Linked DNA regions of Homo sapiens. The protein of the gene in region 3 interacts with the protein of the main gene of each other region in a biochemical or structural test. Each region holds a gene or a part of one and is shown on either strand. Other genes may lie near its edges.

Region 1 (3,500 bases), on a different chromosome or scaffold from region 3:
CTCCCCGTGTCAGCCTGGTGGAGTGTGCACATTGACTGTTTGCCAGGCTGGGGTGCTGGTCTCGTTTCGGTTCTCCTTCTGGGAGGCAGCCGGAGAAGTCTGCCCCCGGGAGCTTGAACTGGGCATGCTGGGCTGTTGTTGGGGAGGCCTGTGCTCCGGGTTTCCTTGCGACGCTTTTGGCTCAGCACTGTTACACACGGTGCTCCTAGGTGGTCCACGGGGTATGCGTCAGTGCCTGTCTGTGGCCTCTGCCTCCTGGGTTCCCAGAGTGTCCTCCTGGTGCCCATGTCCCTGAGCGCCCCCACCTGCTCTTCAGCAAGGGCTGGGCTGCTTTGTACCTTGCCCTTCCCACTTGATTGTTTTTTCGGTTGATGTTTATTAATTTGTTTTTATTTATGTATTTTGTTGTTGTTGTTGCAGAGACAGGGTCTCCCTATGTTGCCCAGACTGGTCTTGAACTCCTGGGCTCAAGTGATCCTCTCACCTCGGCCTCCCGAAGTGCTGAGATTACAGGTATGAGCCCCTGGGCCTGGCCATCTGTTTGGTTTTTAGAGACAGAGCCTCACTTTGTGGCCCAGACTGGGGTGCAGTGGCTTGATCATGGCTCATTGTAACCCCTAAAACCTGGGCTCAAGCAGTCCTCCCACATCAGCTTCCTGAGCAGCTGGGACTACAGGTGTACACCACCATGTCTGTCTAATTTTTTTGTTTTGTTTTGTTTTTTTGAGACAGAGTCTCACTCTGTCACCAGGCTGGAGTGCAGTGGTGCAATCTCGGCTCACTGCAACCTCCGCCTCCCTGTTTCGATTTTCCTGCCTCAGCCTCCCAAGTAGCTAGGACTACAGGCGCCTGCCAGCATGCCCGGCTAATTTTTGTATTTTTATTTTATTTATTTATTTATTTATTTTTATTTTATTTTATTTTATTTTGAGATGGAGTCTCGCTCTGTCACCCAGGCTGGAGTGCAGTGGTGCTGTCTCGGCTCACTGCAAGCTCCGCCTCCTGGGTTCACACCATTCTCCTGCCTCAGCCTCCCGAGTAGCTGGGACTACAGGCGCCCGCCACCACGCCCGGCTAATTTTTTTTATATTTTTAGTAGAGATGGGGTTTCACCGTGTTAGCCAGGATGGTCTCAATTTTCTGACCTCGTGATCCGCCCGCCTCAGCCTCCCAAAGTGTTGGGATTACAGGCGTGAGCCACCACGCCCTGCCTATTTTATTTTTTTGAGAAGCTCTGTCGCCCAGGCTGGAGTGCAGTGGCACGATCTCAGCTCACTACAACCTCCACTTCCCGGGTTCAAGCAATTCTCCTGCCTCAGCCTCCTGAGTAGTTGGGACTACAGGCGTGCACCACCACGCCCAGCTAATTTCTGTATTTTTAGTAGAGACAGGGTTTCACCATGTTGGCCAGGATGGTCTCGATCTCTTGACCTCGTGATCCGCCCGCCTTGGCCTCTGAAAGTGCTGGGATTACAGGCGTGAGCCACCACGCCCAGCCAGAATTATCTTTTTAAGTTTCACACAAAGCCACATTTGGTTTATAATTGGAAGTTCTTTAACTCTGTAGAGCAGGTTGGGGAGAATTGACGTTTGTGTGGTACTGAGTCTTCTCATTCATGATCAAGCTATTTACTTAGGTCTTGAATGTATTTTGAGAGTTTTACAAGATTCTGCTGTCATGCATATCCTTTGTTACATTTATTCCTAGATGCTTGTATTTTAGAAGTCATAGTAAAAGTCAGCTTTTTATTATGTTTGTTGCTAACATATAGAAATTCAGTTGATTTTTCAAAGAAATCAGTGATTTTACTATTTTTAACCTAGTAACTTATCTATAGATTATTTTGTATTTTCAAAATGTATGTTTTGTCTTTTGCAAAAGACAAAGTTGTTTCTTTTCAATCCTCATACTTTTCTTTCTTTCTCTTGCCTGACTGTGCCAGTTGTCATAGTACAGTGTTGAATATGGTTGGTTGCGTGGATTACCCGTGTTCTGTCTTGACCTTAAGGAAGGTTTCCAGTGTTTTACCTTTAAGGACGATGTTTGCTGCAACTTTTTGTGGATAGCCTTTATGCACTTAAAAAGTCTCATCCTATTCATGACTTGCAAAGGCTTTTTAAAGAAATCATTATGAGTGGATGTTGAATATAATCAAGTACTTTCATTAAGAGGATTATATAATTTTTATCTTTTCATTACTATTGTGGTAAATTACATAAATTGATTTTATTTCTTTTCTTTTCTTTTTGAGACAGAGTCTCGCTCTGTTACCAGGCTGGAGTGCAGTGGCGTGATCTCAGCTCACTGCAACCTCTGCCTCCCAGGTTCAAGCAATTCCCCTGCCTCAGCCTCCCAAGTAGCTGGGACTACAGGTGTGCACCACCACGCCCAGCGAATTTTTGTATTTTTAGTAGAGACGGGGTTTCACCGTGTTGGCCAGGAGGGTCTCGATCTCCTGACCTTGTTATCCGTCCACCTCAGCCTCCCAAAGTGCTGGGATTACAGGCGTGAGCCACCATGCCTGGCCGTAAATTGATTTTCTAACATTAACCTATTCCTGGAAAAATACTAGTTTAAGCATGTTGTATTACCCTTTTTAAAAATTGGTGGATATATATTTATTTATGTATTTATTTTTTGAGACAGGGTCTTGCTCTTTTGCCTAGGCTGGAGTGCAGTGGTGTGACCATGGCTCAAGCAATCCTCCTGCCTCAGCCTCCTGAGTAGCTGAGACTACAGGTGCATGCCACTGGCCTGGCTAATTTTAAATTTTTTGTAGAGATGGGGTCTCACTATGTTGCTCAGGCTGGTCTCCAACTCCTGGCCTCAAGTGATCCTCTCACCTTGGCCTCTCAAAGAGCTGGGACTCCAGGTGTGAGCCTCCCTACCTGCCCACATTGGTGGGTTTAGATGATAGTATCTTGTTTAGGACTTCTGCATGTGTGTCTGGGGTCTATGTGCTTCCTTTCTTCTGTAGTCCTTAGCAGATTTTGGCGCTAAGATTTCCTTGTGAAATGAAATGAGTACTGCCTCTTTTGCTGTATCGTGGTATAGCTTATGTAAAATTGGAATCATTTCTTCCTTGAATGTTTGGGATAATTCACTTATAAAATAACCTGACTGGCCGGGCCTGGTGGTTCACACCTGTAATCCCAGCACTTTGGGAGGCTGAGGTGGGTGGATTACCGGAGGTTAGGAGTTCGAGACCAGCCTGGGCAACGTAGTGAAATCCCATCTCTACTAAACATACAAAAATTAGCCAGGCGTGGTGGCACGCACCTGTAATTCCAGCTACTCAGGAGGCTGAAGCAGGAGAATCACTTGAACTTGGGAGGCGGAGGTTGCAGTGAGCCCAGATGGCGCCACTGCAAAAACATTTTTTTTTGAACCTGCTTTCTGGGTCAGTGTGTCAATTTTAATGCACGTTCTGTTTATACTTAAAAGGAATGTGTGTTTGGCAGTTGATGGTGCAGTGTTTGTCTATTAGATCAAGCTTGGT
Region 2 (3,500 bases), on a different chromosome or scaffold from region 3:
TGAAGACCCTCATGATCTCTTGGCTACTCCCACTCCAGAGTTGTTGCTCGATTGGAGGCAGAGTGCAGAAGAGGTGATTGTCAAGCTTCGTGTGGGAGTAGGTCCCCTGCAGCTGGAGGATGTAGATGCTGCTTTCACAGATACAGACTGTGTGGTGCGGTTTGCAGGTGTGTCCATCTGCCCTGAGCACAGTAGTATGTTTGAATCTTCTGATATCTCCTATCCTACCTCATGGACCCTGCTCTGTCCCCAGGTGGTCAGCAGTGGGGTGGTGTCTTCTATGCTGAGATAAAAAGCTCTTGTGCTAAAGTGCAAACCCGCAAGGGCAGTCTCCTGCACCTGACACTGCCCAAAAAGGTGCCTATGCTCACGTGGCCCTCCCTCCTGGTGAGTTCTAGTAGTACAGGGTTGGGTAGGGATACCAGTGTAGTCGACAGGGCCTGACTGCTGTATCTTTGGCAGAAGAAACCTCTAGGGACCCAGGAGCTGGTGCCGGGGCTGCGGTGCCAGGAGAATGGGCAGGAACTGTCTCCCATTGCCCTGGAGCCAGGCCCTGAGCCCCACCGGGCTAAGCAGGAGGCCCGGAACCAGAAGCGGGCCCAGGGCCGTGGTGAGGTAGGCGCAGGGGCTGGCCCCGGGGCCCAGGCAGGGCCCAGCGCCAAGAGGGCTGTGCATCTCTGCAGAGGGCCAGAGGGGGACGGGTCCAGGGATGACCCTGGACCCCGGGGTGATGCCCCACCCTTCGTGGCTGACCCAGCCACCCAGGTGAGAGCTGGGCACCTGTTTGGGTGTTAGGAGATGGGGGGAAAGGGTGTGCACTGGAGTGGGAGCCACCTGGCAGACCCAGGGCTGATTCTTTCCACAATCTTGCCATTAATAGGTTGAGGCTGATGAACAGCTTTGCATACCACCGCTGAACTCCCAAACCTGCCTCCTGGGCTCAGAGGAGAATTTAGCCCCTTTGGCAGGAGAGAAAGCAGTGCCTCCCGGGAATGACCCAGTCTCTCCAGCCATGGTCCGGAGCAGAAACCCTGGGAAAGATGACTGTGCCAAGGAGGAGATGGCAGTGGCAGCAGATGCTGCAACCTTGGTGGATGGTAAAGGTGGGGGTGGGCAGGCAGAGCCCTAGGTTGGGTTGCAAAGTTTGTAGGTGGATAGAGAGTAGCAATAGGCTGGAACCTGTCCTGGTTGGGGCTGAGCCATGGTCTCAATATAGAGCCCGAGTCGATGGTGAACCTGGCGTTTGTCAAGAATGACTCGTATGAGAAGGGCCCGGATTCAGTGGTGGTGCACGTGTACGTGAAGGAGATCTGCAGGGACACCTCAAGAGTACTTTTCCGTGAGCAGGACTTCACGCTCATCTTCCAGACCAGGTGGGTGGGTAGATGATGGGGCAAACAATGCCTCAGGTGGGACAGTATGTCTCATGCTCTTCCTCTTGTCCTTCCTCCTATCCTGCTGTGCCTCTGCAGGGATGGAAACTTCCTGAGGCTGCACCCGGGCTGTGGGCCCCACACCACCTTCCGTTGGCAGGTGAAGCTCAGGTGGGTGGTGCCCGGCCCCACCACTGTGCCTGTCCTACCCCGTGGGCTCCATCTCCCTGGCTCATCTATCCTGATGCTCATTCCTCCTAAGTCCCTGAGTTCAGCCTTTTCCCACAGGAATCTGATTGAGCCAGAGCAGTGCACCTTCTGTTTCACGGCTTCTCGCATCGACATCTGCCTTCGTAAGAGGCAGAGTCAGCGCTGGGGGGGCCTGGAGGCCCCGGCTGCACGAGGTCTGCACACGAGCTCCCTTCATTGCCCAGTTCCACGTGACCAGGACCCAAACCCCTGTCACATGCTGCTAACCACCAGCCCTCTCATTCCCCCTTTTTAAGGTGCAGTGGGTGGTGCAAAGGTTGCCGTGCCGACAGGTCCAACCCCTCTGGATTCAACCCCACCAGGAGGTGCTCCCCACCCCCTGACAGGCCAGGAGGAGGCCCGGGCTGTGGAGAAGGATAAATCCAAGGCACGATCTGAGGACACAGGGCTAGACAGTGTGGCAACCCGCACACCCATGGAGCATGTAACCCCAAAGCCAGAGACACACCTGGCCTCGGTGAGAATTCTGGGGTGGGAAGGACGAAGAATGGAGGCTGGAGAGTCTTGGGGCTGTTCTCTCATGTCGTCTTTGCTCCTGCAGCCCAAGCCTACATGCATGGTGCCTCCCATGCCCCACAGCCCAGTTAGTGGAGACAGCGTGGAGGAGGAGGAAGAGGAAGAGAAGAAGGTGTGTCTGCCAGGCTTCACTGGCCTTGTCAATTTAGGCAACACCTGCTTCATGAACAGCGTCATTCAGTCTCTGTCCAACACTCGGGAACTCCGGGACTTCTTCCATGGTGAGGGCAGGGCCTGGAGCCTGGGTTATGGGCAGAGAGAGTGCCTTTGTTCCTCACACCTTTGCTCGGCTACTATTCCTAGACCGCTCCTTTGAGGCTGAGATCAACTACAACAACCCACTAGGGACTGGTGGGCGTCTGGCCATTGGCTTTGCCGTGCTGCTTCGGGCGCTGTGGAAGGGCACCCACCATGCCTTCCAGCCTTCCAAGTTGAAGGTGATCTGTGACCACTGTCACCCTTGGCTGGAGGGGGCGGGGAGGGCCAGCCAGCTGGGTGTGCAGTGGGTGCTAGGGCTTCATGTTCACACCTTGGCTCCTGTATCCAGGCCATTGTGGCGAGTAAGGCCAGCCAGTTCACAGGCTATGCACAGCATGATGCCCAGGAGTTCATGGCTTTCCTGCTGGATGGGCTGCACGAGGACCTGAATCGCATTCAGAACAAGCCCTACACAGAGACCGTGGATTCAGATGGGCGGCCCGATGAGGTCAGGGTTAGGGACAGAGGGTGGGCATGTCTCATGAGCATCCCAGCCCCTGGTACTCTTTGGTTCTCACCACTCTGCCTCTCAGGTGGTAGCTGAGGAAGCATGGCAGCGGCACAAGATGAGGAATGACTCTTTCATCGTGGACCTATTTCAGGGGCAGTACAAGTCGAAGCTGGTGTGCCCTGTGTGTGCCAAGGTGTGATGGGCTCCCCTGGAAAGAGACCCCCTAGTTCAGCTCAGCTATTCTGGTCACATTAGGTTCAGAGGCATGTGCATCTTAAGGTGCTACAGGGCAAGGTTTGGGCAAAGAAGCTGGCAGGGAGGCCTTAGGATTCTATTTGGGCTGAAGAGCCCACTCAGGGTAGGCTTCCTGACTGAGGGAAAAGTGATGTTAGAGCTCAAAGGTGTTGTAGCAGGGTTGTGGGCACATGGGGTGCAAGTGTGAGGCCAATTCGTAAAGTGGCTAAGCTGAGTAGGGCTTTGAGTGCCAGAAAGAAGGATTGTTATTTCCTGGTGGTCCTCCTGCCCTGTCTAGTGTCCTGAAGCCTGAGAGTTTGCTGGTTGGCTGTGGGGGCCCTGAGAGCCATCAGAAGCCCCGGAATGGGCTCTCTGAGCATGAGCATCTTATCTCCCAC
Region 3 (2,710 bases):
TTTATTTATTTACAACTCAAAAAACATTGTTTTGTGTAACATATTTATATATGTATCTAAACCATATGAACATATATTTTTTAGAAACTAAGAGAATGATAGGCTTTTGTTCTTATGAACGAAAAAGAGGTAGCACTACAAACACAATATTCAATCAAAATTTCAGCATTATTGAAATTGTAAGTGAAGTAAAACTTAAGATATTTGAGTTAACCTTTAAGAATTTTAAATATTTTGGCATTGTACTAATACCGGGAACATGAAGCCAGGTGTGGTGGTATGTGCCTGTAGTCCCAGGCTGAGGCAAGAGAATTACTTGAGCCCAGGAGTTTGAATCCATCCTGGGCAGCATACTGAGACCCTGCCTTTAAAAACAAACAGAACAAAAACAAAACACCAGGGACACATTTCTCTGTCTTTTTTGATCAGTGTCCTATACATCGAAGGTGTGCATATATGTTGAATGACATTTTAGGGACATGGTGTTTTTATAAAGAATTCTGTGAGAAAAAATTTAATAAAGCAACAAAAATTACTCTTATTCTTCATTGCTTTATTTCAATGACATTGGATAGTTTAGTCACTCCCAGACTCTTTCCATACCTTCTTAAAGCCTCTCAAATATTGAACTACAGTTTATACTCCTTCCCATAAGATGCTTCTTCATTGACACTTGTAGAACACGGGGTCAACACATCATAAAATCTATTATGGAATGCCTGAGACAAGAATCAAACAGTCCCTTTAGTAAGTTTGTTTATTCACTTCTCTATTGATTCATTCAAGAAGTCTCATGCCAGCCCCACCTATTGGAAGAAGGTCTGAGTTTTATTCTTATCTCTTTGGTATTAATTCTGAAACTTAGAAAGTACACTGGTTAGCAATGCTTGGGACCAACAGGTTGTTCTGGTAAATAAATCTGTTTCATATTGTCAGTGCAACAAAATGTCCCCCTCTGCATTATGTTATTGGTACTCAACACGTCCGAGTCATAACTCTGTCCTTTGCTTCTTATAGAGGTATTAGGTCTTCAAGAGCAGAAGTAAGACTGTAATAGGGAATACTCAGGGGAAGGCAGGCAAAGGCTAGTCATCTAAACCAGTTCTAGATGTCTGTATAGGGGCAGATGGCTCTGTAAGGGCAGAAGGGAAAGACCCCTTCATAAGGGTCACAGCTGACAATCCTATAACAAAAGACAGGTTAACAAGAGAAAAACTTAACAAATTTATTTAATCACAGATTTACATCACCGGGGAGCCTTCGTAATGAAGATCCAAAATTACAGGGGAAACTGTGCATTTTTATGCTTAGGTTTGATAATGAATGGACAGCCCTGAAGAATAGTGATTGGAAAAAAAGGATATGATCTAATGGGAATAGACACAGGTTGGGGACCCAGCAAGGCCTGTCTGTTCAGATTATTCTTGGTCTCTGTGCAGCATTCCTTCCTCCTGGATATAGGGCAGGGCCTGTATGGGATGGGGATATTATAACCTGCTATCAAGCAAGGTAGGTCAGAGAATTTATTTATGGCCAGCTCTTACATAGTTAGGTGAGGAAAGATTAGAGTACTATCTTTAAGATGTAAGTCTGGCATTGTGGAAAGATGGTTCCAGTTTCTATGACCTACCTTGGGGAAGAGGAATTCAAGTTTCTGTGGCTTGCCTTCAGGGAGAATGAGGCTGAGACAGGAGGGCAGGATAACATCAGAGAAAAACTTTGCTTCTGAGGCCTTCACTTTGGGTTTTCTGAGCCCCAACATCTGCTAGTGTTGTAAAGAGAACAATTAGGGACCAAGTGAGGGGAGGAAAGAATCCATCTCTGCATTCTGATGCTGGGAGACTTATTTCCTTGAAATGCAATTGATTTTGCCTCTGCTAAGAGGCTCTGCTGGCTACCCATGTACTAGCCAGTGTCCTGCATGGGTGCTAGGCTGAATTATTTGTAATTGTGCTTAGGTGATTTGTAACTCAGGTATAGGGTATTTAAATAGTAGGCACCCTTTTTGCACCATGTGTTTTTTTTTTTATCTAGTTCTTGTATACTACAGATAATATTTGAACTTTGTCATCTCACTGTAAAACTTTTGTTCATTTCTCATTATGGTAATAAATAGCTATTATAACCAACCCATTTATTCAAATATGTTATTTCCCTAAGTGTTATTTTGACATTTTGTTTTGGAAAAAATAAATCACCATAGATAATAATGGTAGATCTATTTGCTGACCAAATGTCAGATGTTTTCAGGTGCTTGACATGCATTAATCCATTTGATTGCCTCCAACCCCACCTACCAGCCAACGTGGTCTTCAGTCATTGGGTTTAAACCTCAATATATTAAGTGTGATCATACAGGACTTTGCAGCAGGCTTAATTTCATACTTCAGCCATGCTCATTATAGCTTCCATTCCAACCTTTCTCTTAATTTCCTTATATCGCTTGATACCATTAGCCATTAAGTTCCTTTGTGGTCACAGGCAATGTGATTGAACCATATTCAGCTCCTATTGGAGAAGATGTCACCTCCTTTTGTTGTCTTGCACATCATAGTAGACACTATGTATGTTACTAAGAAAATTCAAGACCAGATGCAGTGGTTCACACCTGTAATCCCAGAACTTTAGGAGGCCAAGGCAGGTGGATCGTTTGAGTCTAGGAGCTCAAGACCAGTCTGGGCAACATAGTAAGACCATGTCTTAATAAATA

Evidence for each region. The genes of interacting proteins can lie anywhere in the genome.
Region 1: the proteins of BIRC3 (region 3) and PACS2 form a complex in vitro, tested with the Homo sapiens proteins (one study listed by BioGRID).
Region 2: of the proteins of BIRC3 (region 3) and USP19, one has a biochemical effect on the other in vitro, tested with the Homo sapiens proteins (one study listed by BioGRID).

Annotation. Positions count from the first base shown.
Region 1 is NC_000014.9:105,317,748-105,321,247, forward strand, and holds part of PACS2 (phosphofurin acidic cluster sorting protein 2), read left to right. Parts: intron 1-3,500. UniProt on the Homo sapiens protein: Multifunctional sorting protein that controls the endoplasmic reticulum (ER)-mitochondria communication, including the apposition of mitochondria with the ER and ER homeostasis.
Region 2 is NC_000003.12:49,114,324-49,117,823, reverse strand, and holds part of USP19 (ubiquitin carboxyl-terminal hydrolase 19), read left to right. Parts: coding exon 1-167; intron 168-253; coding exon 254-387; intron 388-462; coding exon 463-765; intron 766-880; coding exon 881-1,097; coding exon of another isoform or gene 1,098-1,103; intron 1,104-1,216; coding exon 1,217-1,373; intron 1,374-1,472; coding exon 1,473-1,544; intron 1,545-1,661; coding exon 1,662-1,777; intron 1,778-1,879; coding exon 1,880-2,100; intron 2,101-2,184; coding exon 2,185-2,380; intron 2,381-2,462; coding exon 2,463-2,596; intron 2,597-2,706; coding exon 2,707-2,865; intron 2,866-2,950; coding exon 2,951-3,061; intron 3,062-3,500. UniProt on the Homo sapiens protein: Deubiquitinating enzyme that regulates the degradation of various proteins by removing ubiquitin moieties, thereby preventing their proteasomal degradation. Stabilizes RNF123, which promotes CDKN1B degradation and contributes to cell proliferation.
Region 3 is NC_000011.10:102,337,194-102,339,903, forward strand, and holds the end of BIRC3 (baculoviral IAP repeat-containing protein 3), read left to right. Parts: 3' UTR 1-2,210; downstream 2,211-2,710. UniProt on the Homo sapiens protein: Multi-functional protein which regulates not only caspases and apoptosis, but also modulates inflammatory signaling and immunity, mitogenic kinase signaling and cell proliferation, as well as cell invasion and metastasis.